4 linked regions of the Homo sapiens genome follow. The protein of the gene in region 4 purifies or fractionates together with the protein of the main gene of each other region. This does not show direct contact. Each region holds a gene or a part of one and is shown on either strand. Other genes may lie near its edges.

The links.
Region 1: the proteins of GLT8D2 (region 4) and EIF2AK3 purify together in Homo sapiens (affinity purification with mass spectrometry; 3 studies listed by BioGRID and IntAct, with this or other methods). This does not show direct contact.
Region 2: the proteins of GLT8D2 (region 4) and RMND1 purify together in Homo sapiens (affinity purification with mass spectrometry; 3 studies listed by BioGRID and IntAct, with this or other methods). This does not show direct contact.
Region 3: the proteins of GLT8D2 (region 4) and OSBPL8 purify together in Homo sapiens (affinity purification with mass spectrometry; 3 studies listed by BioGRID and IntAct, with this or other methods). This does not show direct contact.

What each region holds. Positions count from the first base shown.
Region 1 is NC_000002.12:88,556,241-88,561,464, reverse strand, and holds the end of EIF2AK3 (eukaryotic translation initiation factor 2-alpha kinase 3 isoform 1 precursor), read left to right. Parts: intron 1-2,485; coding exon 2,486-2,548; intron 2,549-3,528; coding exon 3,529-3,729; 3' UTR 3,730-4,724; downstream 4,725-5,224. UniProt on the Homo sapiens protein: Metabolic-stress sensing protein kinase that phosphorylates the alpha subunit of eukaryotic translation initiation factor 2 (EIF2S1/eIF-2-alpha) in response to various stress, such as unfolded protein response (UPR).
Region 2 is NC_000006.12:151,404,204-151,407,154, forward strand, and holds the end of RMND1 (required for meiotic nuclear division protein 1 homolog), read right to left. Parts: intron 1,634-2,951; coding exon 1,517-1,633; intron 1,065-1,516; coding exon 1,032-1,064; 3' UTR 559-1,031; downstream 1-558. UniProt on the Homo sapiens protein: Required for mitochondrial translation, possibly by coordinating the assembly or maintenance of the mitochondrial ribosome.
Region 3 is NC_000012.12:76,556,754-76,564,515, reverse strand, and holds the start of OSBPL8 (oxysterol-binding protein-related protein 8), read left to right. Parts: upstream 1-4,744; 5' UTR 4,745-5,119; intron 5,120-5,507; exon of another isoform or gene 5,508-5,944; coding exon of another isoform or gene 5,945-5,946; intron 5,947-7,762. UniProt on the Homo sapiens protein: Lipid transporter involved in lipid countertransport between the endoplasmic reticulum and the plasma membrane: specifically exchanges phosphatidylserine with phosphatidylinositol 4-phosphate (PI4P), delivering phosphatidylserine to the plasma membrane in exchange for PI4P, which is degraded by the SAC1/SACM1L phosphatase in the endoplasmic reticulum.
Region 4 is NC_000012.12:104,040,188-104,047,187, forward strand, and holds part of GLT8D2 (glycosyltransferase 8 domain-containing protein 2), read right to left. Parts: intron 1-7,000.

The sequences.
Region 1 (5,224 bases), on a different chromosome or scaffold from region 4:
ACGGTAAAACCCCATCTCTGCTAAAAATACAAAAAATTAGCCGGGCATGGTGGCACGTGCCTGTAGTCCCAGCTACTCTGGAGGCTGAGGCAGGAGAATGGTGTGAACCCGGGAGGCGGAGCTTGCATTGAGCAGAGATCGCGCCACTGCACTCCAGCCTGGGTGACAGAGTGAGACTCTGTCTCGAAAAAAAAAAAAAAAGTAGCCCTCTGGCCAGGCATGGTGGCTCACACCTCTAATCCCAACACTTTGGGAGGCTCAAGCAGGAAGATCACTTGAGGCCAGAGTTCAACACCAGCCTGGGCAACATAGTAAGACCCCATCTCTACAAAAAATTTAAAAATTAGCAAGGCATGGTAGCACATGCCTTGAGAGGCTAAGGCAGGAAGATCACTATGATTGTGCCACTGCACTCCAGCCTGGGCGACACAGCAAGACCCTGTCTCTGAAAATAAAGTGGGCCTCTGTCACATTCTTCCCTATCTTTCATAAGTAGCTACCCTCACCTCTTCTAGTTGTTGTCCCTGGTACTTATCTCCATATTTTCAAAGTTTAGGCTCTTGTCACTATTTCTTATTTTATCAGTTTTAGATCTTACTTATTGATCTCTGGCCATGGTAGAAGAGGATGTAGTTCTCACATAGAGCAAAATGACTCATATCTTCTAACCGAAAGGACCTACCAAATGTTCTGTACAATGAATGAAAAAAAAAAAAAAACAGTCAAAATAACCATTTTCAGAACACCAGAAATAAAGGCCCTAAAAGCTTCCAGAAAGGAAAATAAAACAGGTCTAACCTAAGTAAAGGATCAAGAATCAGATGGCATCAAAATTTATATAGTTATAAATGCCTCAGAGAATACTGTCAAGAAAGTGAAAAGACAAGGTGGACGTGGTAGCACATGCCTGTAGTCCCAGCTACGTGGGAAGCTTGAGGCAAAAGGAATTCCTTGAGACCAGGAGTTCACGGCTACAGTAAGCTATGATTATGCCTGCAAATAGCCTGGGCACCATGAGACCCTATCTCTAAATAAATTAATTAAATGAAATAGAAAGTGAAAAGGCAGCTCACAGAATGGGAGAAAATATTTGTAAATCCTATATCCGAAAAGTGTCTAGAATTCAGAATACATAAAGAACTATTACAACTCAACAAAAAGACAACTCATTTTAAAAAGGGGCAAAGCAATAGAACTTTCTCCAAAGAGGATAAACAAATGGCCAATAAGCATGTGAAAAGATGCTCAACATCGTTGGGCATTAGGGAAATGCAAATCAAAACCACAATGAGATACCACTTCAGCACCATCTAGGGTATCTGTAATAAAAAAATTAAAAAAAAAGGAAATGTCAAGTGTTGGCTAGGATGTGGAGAAATTGGAACCCTCATACGTTGCTGGTGGAATGTAAAATGGTGCAGCTGCTTTGGAAAACAGTCTGGCAGTTCCTTAAACAGTTAAACATAGAATTACCATAGAATCCAGTAATTCTACTCCTAGGTATGTACTCAAGGGAAATGAAAACATAGACAAAAGCTTGTATACAACTGTTCATATGAGCATTATTTCTAATATCCAAAAGTAGAAACCACCAAAATGCTCATCAGCTGATGAATGGAAAAACAAAGTGTGGTATTTTATACAATGAAAAGTATTCAACCATTACAAGGAAGGAAATACTAACATGTGCCGCAACGTAGATGAATCTTGAAAACATGCTGAGTGAAAAAAGCCAGACACAAAAGTCCACTTTTATATCATTCAGTTTTTATGAAATATTCAGAAGAGGCAACTCCATAGAAACAAAGATTTCCAATATTTTCTTTGTGCTTTAATATGGCCCTTTCTCTCTCTCTCTCTCCCCTTTCTCTTTCTCCCTCCCTCCACACATACATATATACACATATATGTAAATGTACATACACACACACACACACACACACACACACACACAGTCATCTTGGTATCCACAGGGGATTGGTTCCAGGACTCCCTGTGGATACCAAATCTGCAGATGCTCAAGTCCCTTATATAAAATGGTGTAATATTTGTATAGAACCTACATATATTCTGTGTATTTTAAATCTTCTGTAAATTACAGTACCTAACATAATGTAAATTCTATGTAAATAAGTATTATACTGTATTGATGAGGGAATAATGACAAGAAAAAAATCTGTATCTGTCCAGTACAGATGCAACCATCTATTTTTAAATTTTTTAAATATTTTCATTCTGTGGTTGGTTGAATCCTTGGATGTGGAATCTGTGGATGTGGAAGACCAGCTGTATATTTTGAGGATATTTGATGGAGTGTACATCTGTGCTCAGGAAACATATGTAGTTATTAAATCAGGAAAAGCTATTGATAAATTTTCCATTTGATAGATGTACAACCTCTTAGTCATTTTGTTAGAGTATCAAAAAATATTTTCATGTTGTATGTCAAAATAAACTTAATAAGTGATACTTTTTTTCTTTTTAGACCTTAACTGATGTAAGAAATCTCAAATTTCCACCATTATTTACTCAGAAATATCCTTGTGAGGTATGTGTAATTCTCATCTTTTATCTTCTTTAGAATCATCTTTAGAACGTAAGCGGTCCTTAGCAGTCGACTCAGTTTCCCCTATTTTACAGATGAGGAAGCCAAAGGTCTAGAGAGGAAAGAGACCTGCTCCCAAGAGCCCAGAATTTGTTAAAACCAAACACTGGAGCTGGGGCCTGGCTCCTTCAGCCTAATGTCCAGTGTTCCACACTGTAGCACCTGTGAAATTTATATATTGATAAATCTTGAATTTCCTTAAGTAATTAAGTTGAAGTGAGTTAGTATGTGTTCATTTTCAAATTGGAAAAAGTCAAAATTTATCTTTCAGTATTATAATGAAGGGTTGCATTAAAAAATGGACTTTATAACAATATATTAATACCTACATATACTTAAGTCTGTTTTACTAAAAATTGTCATCATGTATTTTGCAAACTTGATGAATCTATTCCCAGGGTGGCTCATAAGAGTACATGTTACGTTCAAAGAGATTTTTAAAAACCAAGAAAAGGTGTTGGTTGCTGATCTCTGCCATAATTTTTTCTAATTAAAATTTCTATTGAGATAATTGTAGATTTACATGCAATTATAAGATGATTTTTAAAAATCATATTTATGTTTCAGGGATGTGATTAAATAATCCTTTATAATGTGTTAGAAAATCAAATTACCCAAAAATTGTCCATGTTTTTTTGGAATGAGGGTTGGCAAACTAGTGCCCACAGGTCAAATCCAGCCTGCCACCTATTTTTATAATAAAGTTCTATTGGAACACAGCCATGCCCATTAATTTACAAATTGTCTCTGGATGCTTTTGTGCATTGACGGCAGAGCTGAGTAGTTGTATCAGAGACTTGAAAACTCGAATATGGCTCAAAAGCTTAAAATATGTACAGAAATATTTTGCCAGCACTGATTTTAAAAACTGTACAGTGATCAAACCTGGCCGTTTTATCACAAAACAATTTTTATATTTTCAGTACGTGATGGTTCAAGACATGCTCTCTCCATCCCCCATGGAACGACCTGAAGCTATAAACATCATTGAAAATGCTGTATTTGAGGACTTGGACTTTCCAGGAAAAACAGTGCTCAGACAGAGGTCTCGCTCCTTGAGTTCATCGGGAACAAAACATTCAAGACAGTCCAACAACTCCCATAGCCCTTTGCCAAGCAATTAGCCTTAAGTTGTGCTAGCAACCCTAATAGGTGATGCAGATAATAGCCTACTTCTTAGAATATGCCTGTCCAAAATTGCAGACTTGAAAAGTTTGTTCTTCGCTCAATTTTTTTGTGGACTACTTTTTTTATATCAAATTTAAGCTGGATTTGGGGGCATAACCTAATTTGAGCCAACTCCTGAGTTTTGCTATACTTAAGGAAAGGGCTATCTTTGTTCTTTGTTAGTCTCTTGAAACTGGCTGCTGGCCAAGCTTTATAGCCCTCACCATTTGCCTAAGGAGGTAGCAGCAATCCCTAATATATATATATAGTGAGAACTAAAATGGATATATTTTTATAATGCAGAAGAAGGAAAGTCCCCCTGTGTGGTAACTGTATTGTTCTAGAAATATGCTTTCTAGAGATATGATGATTTTGAAACTGATTTCTAGAAAAAGCTGACTCCATTTTTGTCCCTGGCGGGTAAATTAGGAATCTGCACTATTTTGGAGGACAAGTAGCACAAACTGTATAACGGTTTATGTCCGTAGTTTTATAGTCCTATTTGTAGCATTCAATAGCTTTATTCCTTAGATGGTTCTAGGGTGGGTTTACAGCTTTTTGTACTTTTACCTCCAATAAAGGGAAAATGAAGCTTTTTATGTAAATTGGTTGAAAGGTCTAGTTTTGGGAGGAAAAAAGCCGTAGTAAGAAATGGATCATATATATTACAACTAACTTCTTCAACTATGGACTTTTTAAGCCTAATGAAATCTTAAGTGTCTTATATGTAATCCTGTAGGTTGGTACTTCCCCCAAACTGATTATAGGTAACAGTTTAATCATCTCACTTGCTAACATGTTTTTATTTTTCACTGTAAATATGTTTATGTTTTATTTATAAAAATTCTGAAATCAATCCATTTGGGTTGGTGGTGTACAGAACACACTTAAGTGTGTTAACTTGTGACTTCTTTCAAGTCTAAATGATTTAATAAAACTTTTTTTAAATTAAGTATGTTGACTCTTATTTTGAGGAGTTAGTCCCAAAATGGTAGATTTTCTAATTTATAAAATGGGATCATAGATCTAGGAAGAGTCATAAACCTATCCTCAAAAAAACTTCTTCCTAACCCATTTCAGACAGGTATCTTTTTCATCATTTCCCAAAGACTTGGCAGGCCCTTTCAAAATTCACAAGATCCATAATTGACAGACATTTGCCCAGTACCTACCCTGTGCCAAGGACTGAGAATATAGAGGACTTTCCCCTAAAGGGAGAGCTCTCAGAGAAAAGGGCTGTGGTGATGCTAGTTGTATTGATACCGAGGTGTATCTGACATGTGCCACATCGAGGCATGTGGCAGGCTGGGCTGATGGGGCATGAACCAGCTAGACACAATCTAGAAAGGTCAAAATGCATAGCATCTCCATATTACAAACAAATAATGTCTGCCACGCAAGGTTATGAGCAACTTGTACGCTGGAAAAACACTTCCCAGATCTTTGTGGCTG
Region 2 (2,951 bases), on a different chromosome or scaffold from region 4:
CTTGTTATTGTATATATTGATTTCTCTCTTTTTTTTTTTTTTTTTTTTTTTTGAGACGGGAGTCTTTCTCTGATGCCCAGGCTGGAGTGCAGTGGCATGATCTCAGCTCACTGCAAGCTCCGCCTCCCGGGTTCATGCCATTCTCCTGCCTCAGCCTCCTGAGTAGCTGGGACTGCAGGCGCCTGCCACCACACCCAGCTAATTTTTTGTATTTTTAGTAGAGACGGGATTTCACCGTGTAATGTTAGCCAGGATGGTCTCGATCTCCTGACCTTGTGATCCACTCGCCTCGGCCTCCCAAAGTGGGATTACAGGCGTGAGCCACCGCGCCCGGCCTGTATATATTGATTTAAACACTTCAGTTCCTGTATGATTCTCTTAGCCAGGGCCATGATGGGATTCCCTGGGGATAGGTTAAGTTGTGGTGTCTAAAACCTAAGTCCTGTGACTTTAAGAAGTATCTGCCAAGATTTGCCAAGATTTCCTAGATGCTAGTTTTCCAAAGTTCTTAACTGAAATATTTACCTTTTGAATTGTCAGTGATGTAGATACAAACACTAGATTCTTCATAATTTTATTCACACGATATACTGGGCTGAAAAAGATAATTTCTTGATTAAAAAAACACCTATTAAATGATCACCCAGTAGTGAACATTTATTTATTTATTTTATTGTTTATTTTTGAGACTGAGTCTCACTGTTGCCCTGGCTGGAGTGCAGTGGTGTGATCTTAGCTCACTGCAACCTCCGCCTCCCAAGTTCAAGAGATTCTCCTGCCTCAGCCTCCTGAGTAGCTGAGATGACGGGCGTGTGCCAACACACCTGGCTAATTTTGGTATTTTTAGTAGAGATGGGGTTTCACCATGTTGGCCAGGCTTGTCTTGAGCTCCTGATCTCATCTCAAGCCACCCTTCTTGGCCTCCGAAAGTGCTGGGATTACAGGCATGAGGCACCGCGCCGGGCCGAACATTTAATTTTTGATTGTAGAACTTGAATATCTCTTGCAGTGACACTTTGGTTATCACTTGATCAGAAAAATACTCGTCCCAGCTCAAACATTACCTTAGAATAGAAAGTGAGAATTATTTCATGACGGGCAAATTATGGGTACAAACTAAAATGACTTCCAAGATTGTGATTAATGAGAAATGCTCCTGAAGTAAGGTAAATGTTTGCCCTTTCTCACGTGGCAACCTATGAATTGGAGGTACGGGTGCTTGATTTGATGTTGAGCTGTACATTATAAATTTACAGCTAGAACTTTTTCCAAATGCTGTCTTTAAAAGCAGAACCTTGAGGTCTACTCTCAAATTTTAAAAAGTGGAACCTTTTCAAGAATTACTTTTAATGCATTTGCAAATAGTAATTTGAAACTTCCAAATAGAGTTAGTAATGATAACAAAGTCAGCCTCTTTTCTGCTAATAATTTTCTATCTCAAACTATCTTATTAGCATAGCCCCTGTATTTGTGAAAAGATGGTAACTGATCATAGTACAGAGCATTTCCATCTTACCTCTATGGTAATGAGGATGACAATCATCCACTCCAAGCGGAGTGCCCTCTTCTCATTCAGGTGATTCCGCATTAGATCTGTTAGTTCCATGCAGTGCTGAAGTTTTTCATTCATGACCTATGTAAGAAAAATTTCAGTAACATGTATTTAAACAATTTAATACGGTCATACACATAAAAATTCTATAGCTATACAGTGAAAAATCCTGCTCCTCAGTCCTCTCCCCAAAGGCAGCCACCAACATTATCAGTTTCTTGTGAATCCGTCCAGAGACATTTTGTAATGTACAAATTTAACTGCAAGAAATACTTTGCATACTGAAGCTCTTCTATTTGTAAGATTTTGATGGAAGAACTAAAAATAGGTTTTTGAGTCCTAGTTTTTAGTAGCTGCCCTTTTTAGCAGTTAAAAGAGGCAAACTTGAAACATAATGTTTTTTAGCAAGACCTAAAGATAATTTACTTTCTACTAGAAAATCTACGCTTAACATTTGACCTGCTGTACACACACCACTAGATGGCATTGCTTTCAACTGAACTGCAACAGTTCTGCATTCCGATGCCTCCAAACAAGCTGGCTGTGGGGGTTCAAAGAAAATAAAGTCCCTGAATTCAAAATTTGGATGTGACAACTTTTTTTTTTGTTGTTGTTGTTGTTTTTTGGGATGGAGTCTCCCTCTGTCGCCCAGGCCGGAGTGTAATGGCGGATCTCGGCTCACTGCAAGCTCTGCCTCCTGGGATCACGCCATTCTCCTGCCTCAGCCTCCCAAATAGCTGGGACTACAGGTGCCCGCCACCACGCCCGGCTAATTTTTGTATTTTTAGTAGAGATGATGTTAGCCAGGATGGTCTCGATCTCCTGACCTTGTGATCCGCCCGCCTCGGCCTCCCAAAGTGCTGGGATTACAGGCGTGAGCCACCGTGCCAGGCCTGGATGTGATAACTGTTAAATACCTACCTAATATCTTTATATATCACTTGCTACTGGAAATCCTGAAAGCAAAATTTTAAAACAGTTTGTCTCATGGGTATGCTGAAGTTACAGGTTTGGTCAGTGAACATTAAGAGATGAATCACAGGTACGTGTTCAGGGGTTGATTGGAATGCGTTAACTGCACCATGTTACGATTTTTGCACATAGCATTAAACTGCCTTACTAGGCTGGGCTCGGTGGCTTATGCCTGTAATCCTAGCATTTTGGGAGGCTGAGGCAGGAGGCGCACTTGAGCTCAGGAGTTGGAGACCAGCCTGGGCAACACAGTGAAACCCTGTCTCTACAAAAAAATTAGCCAGGCATGGTGGTGTGTGCCTGTAGTTCTAGCTACTTGGCAGGGATGAGGTGGGAGGATTGCTTGAGCTCAGGTGGTCAAGGCTGCAATGAGCCAAGATCATGCCACTGCACTCCAGCCTGGGTGCCAAAGTGAGATCCTGTCTCC
Region 3 (7,762 bases), about 27 Mb from region 4:
GAGGCGGAGGTGGGCGGATTACCCGAGGTCAGGAGTTCGAGACCAGCCTAGCCAACATGGTGAAACCCCTGTCTCTACTAAAAATAAAAAAATTAGCTGGGCGTGGTGGCACGTGCCTGTAGTCCCAGCTACTCGGGAGGGTGAGGCAGGAGAATTGCTTGAACCTGGGAGGCGGAGGTTGCAGTGAGCTGAGATCATGCCACTGCACTCCAGCCAGGGCGACAGAGAATCCCTGTCTAAAAAAAAAAAAAAAAAAAAATCTTAATTATTAGCCTGAAGTTTTTGGGGACCACCCAGCTAGTATGAATTCAAGCTACGTTTTTGTGTGAGAATTGGATTGCAGTTCCAAATTCTCAGATACGATTTTGCTTTTCCCCTGTCCACCAGGTGCCAAGGTTTAAGACGGCTAATTTTCTTTGTAGATTCTGGGGGATGGGTGCCTATGCTAGTAAGCAGCAAGTTTATTTCTAGTATATCCTTACATCAAATTAATAATCCTTGGAATTGCAGTTGTTTGTGTGTGTGTGTGTGTGTGTGTGTGTGTGTGTGTGTGTATAATGCAGGTAATGGGTTTTGTGTCTTTCTTACAAGGTCACGAAAACCAATGCTCCTAGTAACTGGGTTTAGCACATGCCCTTGAGATAAAAGTTGGCTGACTCTGCTAAACTCTAGGTTCCTGCCTTCATTTAGTTTTTTAACTTAATAATTTCTTACCCTATTGTCAGTTAATCAATATATTTAATAAGATTTAAAAAATGTTTTTTCCAGGGATTTTGTTTTCAGTGTGACAAGTGTGAACTAGTCCTTGATATTTCTAGAAACAGAATCCTATATTCTCTTTATACTTTACTATCCAAATTTTCCTCAAGGGATATTTAAGACAAATAATACTAAACAGAAATATTTAAAATCAGTATGTAAATATCTTACATGCAAACATTTTGCATGCAAATTTACAGATTTTATAAAGACTGCTTCTTAACATAAATTTTAGGTGGATATTTACCAAATAGCTGGTTGACTAGTTTGTAGATGTCTGTTATTTATTTTATTAAATAGACAAATATTATTGTTCCACAGTACATTTAGCCTTTGACTCATGAGTTTGTTGGCTCAAATTCACTTTAGATGATTTGCAAGATTATGCTACGCAACAAACAATCTCAAAAATATTTGTGATTCACAACAACAAATATTTTTGTTTTACTCTTGTTTCACATCAGTAGCCGTATGTCAGGAGCTGCAAGTCAGTTGCTTCAGTTCTGTACAGGGTGAGAGTTTCAGGTCTGCTCCATCTATTTTCTTATTCTGAGATCTTATCTGGAACATACCTTTCTCATGGCAGGTGGCACAAGAGTAAGAGATTGACCTGAATTTTGCAATCAAATTTAAAGCCTCTGCTTTGATTTAGCATTTAACATCTGCTCACAAAGCACTGGCTAAAGCAAATCACATGACCAACAAGAATACAAGTCTTCAAAGCTGTGTTGAATACCTTATTTATGGCTGAGGTTGCTCTTAATCTAAATTCTCTTCCAGAAAATGAGGATTTTAGTCTAGAATCCTGATTAGTAATTGTCAGCAACATAATTGTCTAATGGGATAAGCCAAATGGAAAAAAGCAAACAACCTCAAGCAACATCTCTGTCATTCTAGGTCAGGGTTGAAATATACTGTGGGAAAGGCTGTCAAGCCTGTCAGTGCTTAAACTAATTTGGAAAGAACTTCCCATTCTTAGAAATGTATAATTAATAAAGCAGTAGGCAAAAGAGATGAATTCTCATTGGAGTTAAAATCGGATCGTTATAATAAAAAAGCTTTATTTCAAAATGTCATTCTTAAAATCATTGTAAGAGTAGCAAACTTGCAGGGCATCTCTGGGAGTTACTGAATATTTTTCAGTTACAGTGCAGGATCACATATTAGTTTCTGTTTATGTTGTCATTACATTGAAAATGCTAGATTGAATTATCATTCCTGGAATCACAATATCAGATTTGAAAGGATCTGAAAAAATGATTTTTCAACTGTAGTGGATTAATATATTTTTGTGTTGCAATCAGTTGTTAAGTATGTCAAAATCATTAGTTATTCATGACAAGTAACTATTATACTAGTGATAATCAAAGTAGAGAAGATTGTGAAAGATATACTTACATTTGTTTTGCAATATCTTCACTTTCAATTACTTGCATTAGGACTTTCTTTTTTTTGAGTGGAGCTGAAAGAAGTTAAACGTAGGCTGTCAGTAATTTGCATAATCCTGAGTATACCGTGTCTGTTTGTTTCCAATGTGATTGCCATCCACCGGGAAAAAAAAAAGGTGGTTTAGTATCATTTCTCAAACAGCATGTGGTCCTACTTGATTGGAACTTGAAATGCAGGGAGTAATTTATCTAGTCATACATCTCATTAGCTAAGTCTGTAACCTAGGCTTCCTTGCTTCCAGTACATTGCTTTTTCCAACAAATGATCAAATTTTCAAAAGCCAATGTATGAAATTGGGGCTGAGGCAGAAGAGAATTAGGCAAGGCAATTTGCCACCTTTTTCTAATCTTTAGTCTCAGTTTCCAAAGTAAAATAAAAGTACCAGAAAAACGGGGTCCAGATGGTGTATTTTGCATATTATCTATGCTCTAGGAACATTCTTTTCCAAATCTATTTGATTGCAACTCACAGTAAGAAATTGTTTAAATCACAACATAGGACATACTCTCACCTTCCACCATATTTGAAACAAAAAGTTTCAGGAAGCAATTTTTGCCCTTACTAGACATTATGCACTCTGGTATTTTATATTGTATTACATCCTAGCCTATTTCATATAAAAATGAAATTGATTTTTGAGTTGCAGGTTGAAAAACATGCCTCTAGAAAACAGGAGACAAGTTAATCTGTTAACAAACTCCAAAGTTACTAGCTTTGCTGAAATAATGTCACAGAATAATAAACTTCCTTCACATTTATTTGTACTACAGTCTCTCAGGCTTCAGAACAGAACCTGGTAGAATCTTTTCCTCTTTGGAACACCAGTTCATGACAATATCTCAGAGATTCTAAGACTCGTTGTTTCCCAGTTCATGACAATATCTCAGAGATTCTAAGACTCGTTGTTTCCCAGTTCATGACAATATCTCAGAGATTCTAAGACTCGTTGTTTCTGACATGTTTACATCTCTGAATTCAAGATGTGTCTCAGGCCGGGCGCGGTGGCTCATGCCTGTAATCCCAGCATTTTGGGAGGTCGAGGCGGGTGAATCATTTGAGGTCACGAGTTCAACACCAGCCTTGCCAAAATGGTGAAACCTCCTCTCTACTAAAAATACAAAAATTAGCTGGGCATGGTGGCGCATGCCTGTAATCTCAGCTCCTTGGGAGGCTAAGGGAGGAGAATCGCTTGAACCGGGAGGCGGAAATTGCAGTGGGCCGAGATTGCGCCTCTGCACTCCAGTCTGGGAGACAGAGTGAGACCCTGTCTCAAAAAAAAAAGGAAAAAGATGTGGCTTAAAGGTGCCTTACATATCAGCGGTATGGCATAGTTTCATTGGCAGCCTTTGTTTTCTTTCTTGGGTAACATAAAACAATGTAAGTCTATGATTTTTTTAGAGCTGCTATGAAATATATTAATAATAATTATATAGGCCAAACTCTATTGCTTATTCATTTCAATGTATCCAGCTTATCAGAATGCCTTCTGATTTCTTGTTAAGAAAATGTAATGAGATGAGAATAGCTTAAGAAAAAAATCCTTAGTTCTGGGCTACAAGGGAAAATGAGTTATGACCCCAATTTAATTATTACAGAAAGCTTTCTCATTTGCCTTCATTGTGATCAGGGTTTGAGTATGATCTTTATTCTACCTCCCTTACTTCTGTATAGTTAGGATTTCATTAGGCGGCTAGAGGGTTCTTCGGATCATGGCTAAAAAAGAAAGCAAAAGGTTAAGTCCTAGAGTTAAGGAATTAGGAAAAAAAAATTAAGGCATTAGAAAAAAAATCAAGAATTAGGCTTTATTTTAAAAAATGGAACAAACTGTCAAATTCCTGCGTACCCGTTTAAACTGTCACCAACCTAACACACTGTAAAACTTAATGACTGTAAAACTGGCAGCAGGATCCTGAACATAACAAGGAACAAAAATAAGTTTGCTAGGCTGTTTTCATCCCAGCATGATTGAAATACACCGTTTCCTCAAAAAAAAAAAAACCTCTAATGAGGAAAGCAGTAAATTAAATGCCACGGTTAATGTGCCACTAGAAATAGGAACAAGTAGTTTAGTTACCGAATGCTTCTTAGGCCATACACTCTACACCACGATGCGTTCTTTTTTCTGTTTCGCTAAAGCTTTCACCAAGCCTAAGGCTGGAGAGGGGTCCTAACTGAGCCCTGACCAGACCAGGGAGCCCTACTGTGCAATCTCCTCAGGTTAGGAAGGGCCCAGTATGACCGGCCCAGAAGGCCTGGCCGATCAACAGGCGCTGGGCCGACGGTGGTGGGCTCGCTTCCTGAGGCTGCCCTTGGGCATGCGGAAGGGGACTGGCTGGCGATAACACCCTGGCGAAGCAAGGTGGACAGTGACTCCCGCCCGGTTCGAGCCCGCCTAGCAGGGGAAGCAACTCCACCACCGCCTCCGCGCACCGTCACGTGACGGGAAGAGGGCGTGGCCGAAGCCCGTGATCCGGGGGGCGGGCGGGGCAGGGGGAGGGCACTAGAATGTGAAGGATCTTCGCGGTTCTGGGTGCCCAGAAAGGCGGCGACGCGGCGGATGACAACATTAGGCCGCGACGCGCTCCTGGCCAGGCGGCGGCTGTAGTGTTAGCTTTGGACGCCGCAGTAGCCGCTGCCGGTAGCAAGCCGACTGAGGGAAGGTGGGGGTCCGCCCGGGCTGGTGGACCTCGGGGCCGAAAGTTCCCGCCCCGCTCGGGGGCTGAGCCGGCAGTGCCTCCGCGGCCGCTGGGCAGCGCCCTTCGTCCAGGCTCGCGCCCCAGCTGCCGCCGACGACAGCGGCCGAGAGAAGTTGGGGTCTGACTAGACGCTTACGGGGCCTCGGACCCCGGCGCCGCGGCGACCTCGGAGGAACCGGCTCCTTGCGTCCCGCCTCCCTGGGAGCTCCGCACGGGTGAGTGTTGCTCCATTCCTGAGGTTGGGGTGCTGGGTTCGCACCCCTCAGGGCGACTGCGCACCCTTATTGCCACGTTCTGAGCTCGGGCTGTCGGGGACTCCTGGCCACCCCCGCCGAGGAGTTCTTTGGCTCCTTTGTTCCCTTTTGGAGTAGGGGGATTGGAAAGGCTGGCAGGGTGGAGTGTTTAGGGGCCCACAGTAGGTGCATCTGCAGCCTTACAAAAGCCGCGGCAGGGGAACGGGGGTGGGAGGCTGTTGGAGCATTTCGACCGCCCCGGGTGTCTGTCCCTCCTGAAGTTTGATAGGTTGATGGCATGGGCCTCGTTGGGAGCCCCCGCGCCCAGGAGAGCTGGCGCTTTGTCGCTCGGTGCGGTTAAGGCGAGGCTCCTTCTTTCCTGTGACAGCCCCAGAGAAGGCTGTGCCGCGCACCGCAGACCGCACCCGCCTTTGCAGAGCCAAGCGACACGGTGTTGTTCCTCTAAGCCTCAGTTCTCCCGGCCTTCTTGTAACGTAGGAGGAAAGCCAAGCCTTTGCTGTGCTTTTAAATTTAATGTTTGTTTCTAAGCCCTCTCTCAAGAGTGGAATCAGGTTCCAAGGAGCTTCACAGGCAGCATGCTTTAGGTTCATTGAACCACCCACTCAAGACTGGCTGAGGCGAAGCAACAGTATATGCAGATTTTCCATTCACAAAAGTCATTTAACACTCTTCTTTATGAGACACATCTGCGTTGCAGAACGTAACCTAATTTCATTTTATTTAAATGCTTTCTGAAATAATAGGTAACTTGGACAACGTAAACAGATGGGTAAACTTTAACTGATAATGTAAGTATATATGCATTAAATAAAAAATTTAATGATGTTTTTGCCTTTCTGCTGCTAGAAGACTTAAATGACGTCTGAGTAGTAATACAGTGTCTCCTGCATGGCAGTTAAGTTTTTCCCAAAATTAGTGCTGCTTTTGAAATAATCCTTTAAAACAGTTTTTGCCTCCCTTCGTATCTAGAGAGAGCAAGAATTGTGGAGAATCGTGGGTGAATTGATTGTTAAATTTTGCTAATTTCCTAGAGTTTCATCTAAACTTGATTTTGCTGAGAGGCTATGATCAGTTTCTATGCTTGCTAGAACCTGTTTTGCAGTGAAATTATTAAGATCATGCTAGTTTTATAAAATAGGTTGGAATAGGAAAAGTAAGGCCATGCAATTTAAAACTGTTCTCTATAAAAGTACAACTAATTTCAAATGTTTGTTACTTTTATTTTTTTTTAATATTAACCGTGTATGGAGTGACTATAATATACCTGCTCAAAGGGCTGAGAAAGGAAATAGATGAAACTTAAGCTACCTTTTGGGTCTTTAATTATGGACATCAAGTTATTGCGGTCACATTCCATGTCAACCGTTTGAACAGCAATACCGTGTACACAGGTGCTTAGAAATGCCTGTTTAATTAAAAATGGCCATGGTTTATTTCTCTTTGATTGAATCATAATAGTTATTGAATCTCTGATCTGTGGAAAGATGCTACTGTATTTTCCTTAGAATGTTACTGCATTTTAAAGACAGTCAAATATGTTTTTTATAACACATTCAGGGTACTTATACATTTGTCAATATTCAGTTCCTTGGTTCATTTAAAAATTGGAAGCCTTAGAAAACACTTTGGGGATAAATTTACAATTGTGTATAATGAATTTATGTTTTAGTTTGCTTTAAGAAAAATGATGAAATTATGAATTTGTAAAATATGCATTACAAAAGGATTTTTTTTTTTTTTTTTTTTAAGACTGTCTCACTCTGTATCCCAGGCTGGAGTGCAGTGGTGCAACTTGGCTCACTGCAGCTTCTGCCACCTGGGTTCAAGAGATTCTTATGCTTCAGCCTCCTGAGTAGCTGGGATTACAGGTGCGTGCCACCATGCCAGGCTAATTTTTGTATTTTTATTAGAGATGGGGTTTCACCATGTTGGCCAGGCTGGTCTCCAACTCCTGGCCTCAAGATCCGCCCGCCTCAGCCTCCCAAAGTGCTGGGATTACAGTCATGAGCCACTGTGTCTGGCGGATCTTTTGTTTAAAAGTATGAATTGCAGAATTTTAACCAGTGTTAGTACATTTCAACTTGGCTTTGGTTTGTAAATAATCCTTCAAAAGTAGATTACTTGAATTAAGGCATTAAAGACAAAGAATTGATACAGTACATAGATCTAGTTTTCTAATATTAATTTGGAAAACTTTTATCCTAATATTATCCTAATAACAATGCCTGAAATGTCATGTTGTAATGTTTGTATTATATTGAAAGTTAAAAACATTTATAGCAATGTTCTTGGAGCATCAGGCAATTCAAAGAGGACATAGGTCCTGCCTTAATCTTACAAATAATGACCTGCAAATAAGACAGAAACACAACTTGAATAAAAAAGCCTTTGAGAGGCCAGGCCCGGTGGCTCACGCCTGTAATGCTAGCACTTTGGGAGGCTGAGGTGGGCAGATCATGAGGTCAGAAGTTCAAGACCCGCCTGGCCAACATGGTGAAACCCCGTCTCTACTAAAAATACAAAAAAATTAGCTGGGCGTGGCAGTGTGTGCCTGTAATCCCAGCTACTTGGGAGGCTGAGGCAGGAGAATCGCATGAACCCAGG
Region 4 (7,000 bases):
CTAATGTAAATGACAAGTTAATGGGTGCAGCAAACTAACATGGCCCATGTATACCTATGTAACAAACCTGCACGTTGTGCACATGTACCCTAGAACTTAAAGTATAATAATAAAAAAATTATTTATGCCTGTAGAATTGCTATCTTTGATAACAGTATCTGCAATTCACTCACTGTTATTCAAATGAGTCAGATTAACTATACATCTCTTTGAAATAAAAAACAACAAATTGAAAAAAAAATGTTTTTTTTCTTTTGGGACGAAGTCTTGTTCTGTCGCCCAGGCTGGAGTGCAGTCGCTTGATCTTGGCTCACTGTAACCTCTGGCACCCGGGTTTACGCGATTCTCCTGCCTCAGCCTCCAAAGTAGCTGGGATTACAGACGCGTGCCACCATGCCCAACTAATTTTTGCATATTTAGTAGAGATGGGGTTTCAGCATCTTGGCCAGGCTGGTCTTGAACTCCTGACCTCGTGATCCACCCGCCTCAGCCTCCCAAAGTGCTGGGATTACAGGCGTGAGCCACCACGCCCAGCCTAACAAATTGAAAAATTAAGCATCCCATTTTCTAAGTACTATGAGACTCGAGTATATAGGTACTTTTAGCTTTTTAGATGCTGTGTTGTGACTTTACTGGGTGTAAATTTGTAAGTTCAGAGTTCTACTGAATGTGAGAATAAATAAATTTATTTTTAACATTACAAAAGTGATTGGGGAGTCAGCACTGTTTTCTGGCAAGGTGTTAGAGATTTTGCTATTAGAATGTAAATATGAGTTAACTAGCTAAAAATGCTAAGGGGCTGGGCACGGTGGCTCACGCCTGTAATCCCAGCACCTTGGGAGGCCTAGGTGGGCAGATCACTTGAGGTCAGGAGTTCGAGACCAGCCTGGCCAACATGGTGAAACCCCGTCTCTACTAAAAATACAAAAATTAGCTGGGTGTGGGGCCAGGCGTGGTGGCTCACCCCTGTAATCCCAGCACTTTGGGAGGCTGAGGTGGGTGGATCATCTGGGGTCAGGAGTTCGAGACCAGCCTGGCCAACATGGTAAAACGCTGTCTCTACTAAAAATACAAAAATTAGCTGGGCGTGGTGACAGGCGCCTGTAATCCCAGCTAGTCAGGAGGCTGAGGTAGGAGAATCGCTTGAACCTGCGAGACAGAGGTTGCAGTCGGCCAAGATCGCACCATTGCACTCCAGCCTGGGCGACAGAAAGAGACTCTGTCTCAAAAAAGAAAAAATTAGTTGGATGTGGTGGCACGCACCTGTGATCCCAGCTCCTTGGGAGGCTGAGACAGGGGAATTGCTTGAACCAGGGAGGCGGAGGTTGCAGTAAACACAGATCGCACCACTGCACTCCAGCCTGGGTGACAAAGCAAGGCTCTTTCTCAACAACAACAGCAACAACAACAAAGCTAAGATGGGATAAGGGCCCAACCCAGGACAAGAAGGTAATTAGGGGGTTCCCTTGACATTTCTTTGATTCATTCAACAAACATTTACTCAACCTCTACGAATATACCAGGCACCCAGGCACTAGAGATTCAAAGATAAGTCCCCAGTTAGTCCACATTTGGGGGAAGGGAGGGGAAGACACCAGTAAATATATAATGGCAATACAGTGTGCTTAGATGCCTTGGTAGATGTAAGCATGGGATATTGTTTTAGCATCAAGGAGGGGCACCTGACCAGATCATGGGGGTCAGGGAAGGCTCCTGGTCTCCACCAAACCAAACCAAGATACTCCGTTCATTCTTATGTTTCCTTACTAGAACGCAAGCTCCAGGGACAGGACGGGTACTACGTTAATCATTTCTGTATTTCCAGTTCATGGCAAGCATTTGGCACTTGGTAGTGTGGCAGCCTTGATAGCTGGCTGATCCAACAGCTCTTCCCATCCTTTTCTCCTTTGCCTGTTTCCATATGAGAGAGAGGAAAATCCAAATAAAGATTTTACCAGCCTTCTTTGCAGCTAGTAGTAGCCACATAATATAGATCTGATGCACAGAGACTTAAGTGGAAATCTACTGGGAATATCTGAGAAAGCTTTTCCTTTCTGGATGAAGTGTCAACTCCCCCTTCCTCCTGCCTTGCATGGGGCCATAATGGCTGGAGCTAGGCAGCCACCTTGAGACCATGAGGGAGAGGTCAAGAGCTACACAGAATGGTCAGCTCTTATGTCATCGAACTGCTGAATCAATGCCATCAATACCTACCTCCTCCAAACTTCTTATGTGACAGAATCAACCCATGTGTTTAAGCTGCCGTAAATCAGTGTTTCTGGTATTTGAAGTCAAAGACATTCCAGTAGATTAAGTAGGTTCTCAAGAAATTTTTGCAGAACTGAAGTCCTGGGGATAAGCTGATTGTGGGGAATTAAGAGAGGGATCAGAGTTATAAAGAGGTAGAAAACTGATAGGAAGTCAGGGATAGAGAACTGGAGAACCAAGGAAGTGATGCTGGACAGCTTAAGAATGTGTAGGGTGGGGTGTCCTATCTTCTGGCTTCCCTGGACCACACTGAAAGAAGAATTGTCTTGGGCCACACATAAAATACACTAACATGAAACATAGCTGATGAGCTAAACAAAAAAAATCACACACACACAAAAATCTCATTATGTTTTAAGAAAGTTGATGAATTTGTGTTGGGCTGCATCCAAAGCTGTCCAGCACTGCCTGTGGCCTGTGGGCTACGGGTTGGACAAGCTTGAGGTAGAGTAAAAGGCAGAGATCTGGAACCAAGAGAAACTGGAATGGGGCAGAGTCTGAGAGAACATCTTCTGGCTAACAAGGTCCCGGCATGCAAAGAACTGCACCACAGGACTTGTTCCTCACTAGGGTTGAGGCATGGGTGCGTGAGATGCAGACTATGTGCCCGCTCTCTCCTCCTTACATGCTTCCTGCACGTGGCCCGGGGGACTCGGCTCACCTGCTTTTCCTCCACCTTTCTGATGGCTCATTCTCAGTCTCTTTCACTGGTTGCTCCTACCTCCTGAATATCTAAATGTTGGAACACCTTAGCGATTTCTTCTCTTCTTTCTCTAAACTCCCTCCTTAGGAGACTTCATCCTGACTCATGGCTTTAAATATAATTTATATGCTGAAAACTCCCAAATTTCTATCTCCAGGCCAGCCATCTCACATGGATTCCAGACTCCAGATGCCATTTGGCATCTGCACTTATAGTAATCCACGTGTCCAAAACTGAGCTTCTGGTATTTCCCCCGAAACATGCCCTTCCCATAATCTTCCCCAAATCAGTTCGGGTGACTCCATTTAGTTTTTATTTTTATTTTTGAGATGGAGTTTTGTTCTGTCTCTCAAGCTGGAATGCAGTGGCACAATCTTGGCTCACTGCAACCTCCGCCTCCTGGGTTAGAGCAATTCTCCTGCCTCAGCCTCCCTAGTAGCTGGGATTACATGTGTGCACCACCACGCCCAGCTAGTTTTTGTATTTTTAGTAGAGAGGCAGTTTCGCCATGCTGGCCAGGCTGTTCTTGAACTCCTGACCTCAGGTGATCCACTCACCTTGGTCTCCCAAAGTGCTGGGATTACAGGTGTGAGCCACTGTGCCCGGCTGTGACTCCGTTTTTTAAATTGCTCCACAAAAAAATCAGCTTGGTGTTTCCTTAACCCCTCTCTGTTCCTTATTCCCATGTGCACTGACAGCAAATCTTGTCAGTTCCACTTTCAAAATAGATCCAGAATTTTTACCACCTTCTGTGGCTCCACCCTGGCACATTAGCCTTTGACTATATTATTCTGCCTTTGTCTCCCTTCAGCTGATTTTCAACAAAGCAGCCAGAATGAACCTGTGAAAATAGGAGTCGCATTGTGCTGTGCTCTGTTCAAAACCTTCCAAGGCCTTCCTGTCTCTCTCAGAGCAAAAACCAAAGTCATTACAGCATCCTTCCATAAGGTATCGCGTGATCACACCGGCCTCCTTGCCAGACAGCCTCCTGCCTCAGAGCCTTGGCCACGTGCTATTCCTGCTGCCTGGAATCCTCTTCCCAGATATCTACATGGCTTGCCCCCTCATGTCTCTCAGTCTCTTAGTCAAAAGCCTCTAACCCCAACAATGCACAAATTGCATCCCCTCAGCAATTACCATCTTCCAACAGACTGCCTCGTCATCACCGGTGTACTGGCTGCCATCCAAATGACAGACTATAAGCCCCATGAAGGCAGGAAATTTTGTTTCATTCATTGCCATACACCCAGCATCTAGACAAGTGCCTGGCAATATAAGCCCTCAGAAAACATTTATGGACCAAAGGGATGAATGTGCAACTGTCTCCTCAGGGTGCTGCACAAGTATCTCAAAGCCCCTACATTCACAACTGAAATTAGCACCTCCCCTACAGAAACTCCTTCTCTGGGGTTCTCAGATTCCTCTTCAACTTCTCCCTCCTAATTCCTCCTTCAATCACCGAGTCCTACTAATTACACCTCTGCAATAACCTCCCACCTGGCCTTCCTGCCTTTAGAATTTCTGTACACTGCCCTTCCTCAATCCATCACTGGCCTAACGGCCATAGTAACTTTTTTGTTGTTCGATAATCATATCAAGTTCATTTGAAACACAAATGCAGCTTGAGTAGCCTTAATTTTTTGTTTGATTTCCTTTTTCTTTTTTTCGCTTGAAACATTTCAAGACCGCTGAAAAGTCTGAAGAATAAATACTCATATACCTTTCACCAGATCCACCAGTTGCTAACATGTTGACATATTTACTTAATTGAACTTCATATGTACATATATATTTTTGGAAGTTGTAAACATCATGACACTTCTCCCCCTAAATATTTCAGCATATCTATCTTTAAAAGAAGGACCAGACAGACCACTGAGGACAGCGACTGTGGCTTCCTCACTTCCATCTGCCTGTCCTGCCCCAAGGTGGGAACTCAATAAATGTGTGTTGAATCAATGAGAATCAGGAGAGAGAAAGAAAAGGCGAGAGGCTCTTGTTGCTCTGCTCTTCAGCCCCAGAAAGAAAGGACTCAGCCAGAAGGAGGGGAACTGCTGATGATCCCACTCCAGGAATAAAAGCAGAGGGCTCTGGTCATCTCATCAGCCTTCCTGCTACTGTCACAACAAAGAGCCCCAGAACTGTGCCCCTTACACCTCTGTGAGCTTTCCTAGCCCTAGTGACTTCCGTGTGTGTGGTTTCTCTGTGGTAATAAATAGCCAAGCCTTTAACAAGAAATTGCCTGCAGGCCTGTCTTCAGGACAGACAGAGAGGTGGAGCTGGGAGCCACTGCAGGGCAGGCAAGGCACTGGGCAGTAGCATCTTCAAAGAGGGGAGAAAAGAAGGTTGAGGTTCTAGGGCCTGTGAGTAGGAAGAAAAGGAGAGTACAGAGAGTTGTTCTGGGCATGAGAAGAGGCCTGTAAGTTTAAAAATAAGCCCCTGAAGACCTTGCATGGGGAGCCATTTTACCAGATGCCAAAGAGTTTAGGCATGTGGCCAAACCTGGAAAGAATGTTTTGAGACCTGGCAGTGGCTAAGGGAATTTGCTCTGCCTTGGAACAAAAAGCAAAGTGGGAAAGGCTCTTCAGAAAAATACTCCAAAAATCAGTGCCCCTGTGTTTCATTTTACATGCCAGCTCTGATTGGCTATGGTATGGGCTGTTGGGATTGCTAGATTGAGAAGAAATCTGAAGCCATCACTAGATTCAGTTAAAAAAGAAAAGAAAAGAAAGATAAGAAAGAAAGAAAGAAAGAAAGAAAGAAAGAAAGAAAGAAAGAAAAAGAAAGAAAGAAAGAAAATAAGAAAGAAAGAAAGAAAGAAAGTGATTGATTAATCATGTCTGCCATGGTTATAGTATGGTAGGGAGTAATAGGAAATGACTGGGAATCAAAAAGCAAGATAAAAGAGGGGGTTCCTAAAAGTACTGTTGAATGACTTAAATATGAGAGCTGTGTAGGTTAGTGGAAATATGGGCTTTATCCTTAGACAGAGCTGACTGTGAATCCTAATTAGCTGTGTAATCATGGGGTGACTTACAAAACCCTATGTGTAAAACGGGATAGTTCTGCATATTACAAAGCTATTGCTACATAAGTATTAACTATTATTATTTTAACACTTACGTAGCAATTCTATGTGCTAGGCATTGTTCTACGACTTTTACAAATATTCATTCACGGATTATCACAACAACTCCTTAAAGTTATTATTCCAATACACAGGTGAGAAAACTGAGGCTCAGAGAATTAAGAGGTCTGCTAAGGGTCACACAACTAATAAGTGGCAGAGCTAATATTTACACGCAGGCATCCTGGCTCTGAGTTCACATTCTTAACCACCTTGATAGTTACTACAGCCAACCACTTTCCATCGCTATGGTTGCTATCACTGTGTCAAGCAACTGACATAAGCTCTGTGAGTTAACTCTGCAAGACTTGCACCCTGAAGTTCTCAAATGCATAGACACATTTAACAGAGCACTTCATTTTAAGCTATGCAAGCTACAAAGTCATTAACAGGACAAGAGTAAGAATTCACTAAAGGAAAGAGAAAGGACAAGATCAGGACTCAGGAGTCTGTCCTCTAACAAAATATCTCTTGCCTTTTAACTTTTTGCTATAATGAAAGGTTTACTCAAGATTCACCAAGATACATAGAACAGGTGTCTTACTCCATTTTTTTTTTTGACAGGGTCTTACTCTATCACCTAGGCTGGAGTGTGGTGGCATGATCGTAGCTTACTATAGCCTCGAATTCCTGGGCTCAAGCTGTCCTCTCACCTCAGTCTCCCAAATAGCTGGGACAATAGGCATGCACCACCACCACATCCAGCTAATTAAAAATTTTTTTTGTAGAGACAGAGTCTTGCTATGTTGCCTAGTCTGGTTTAGAACTCTGGGCCTCAAGAGATCCTCCCACCTTACCCTCCCAAAGTGCTGTGATTACAGGCATGAGCCACCATGCCAGCCTGAACTGGGTGGCTTCTAAACAACAAAACTTTATTTCTTATAGTTCTGGAAGCTGAGAAG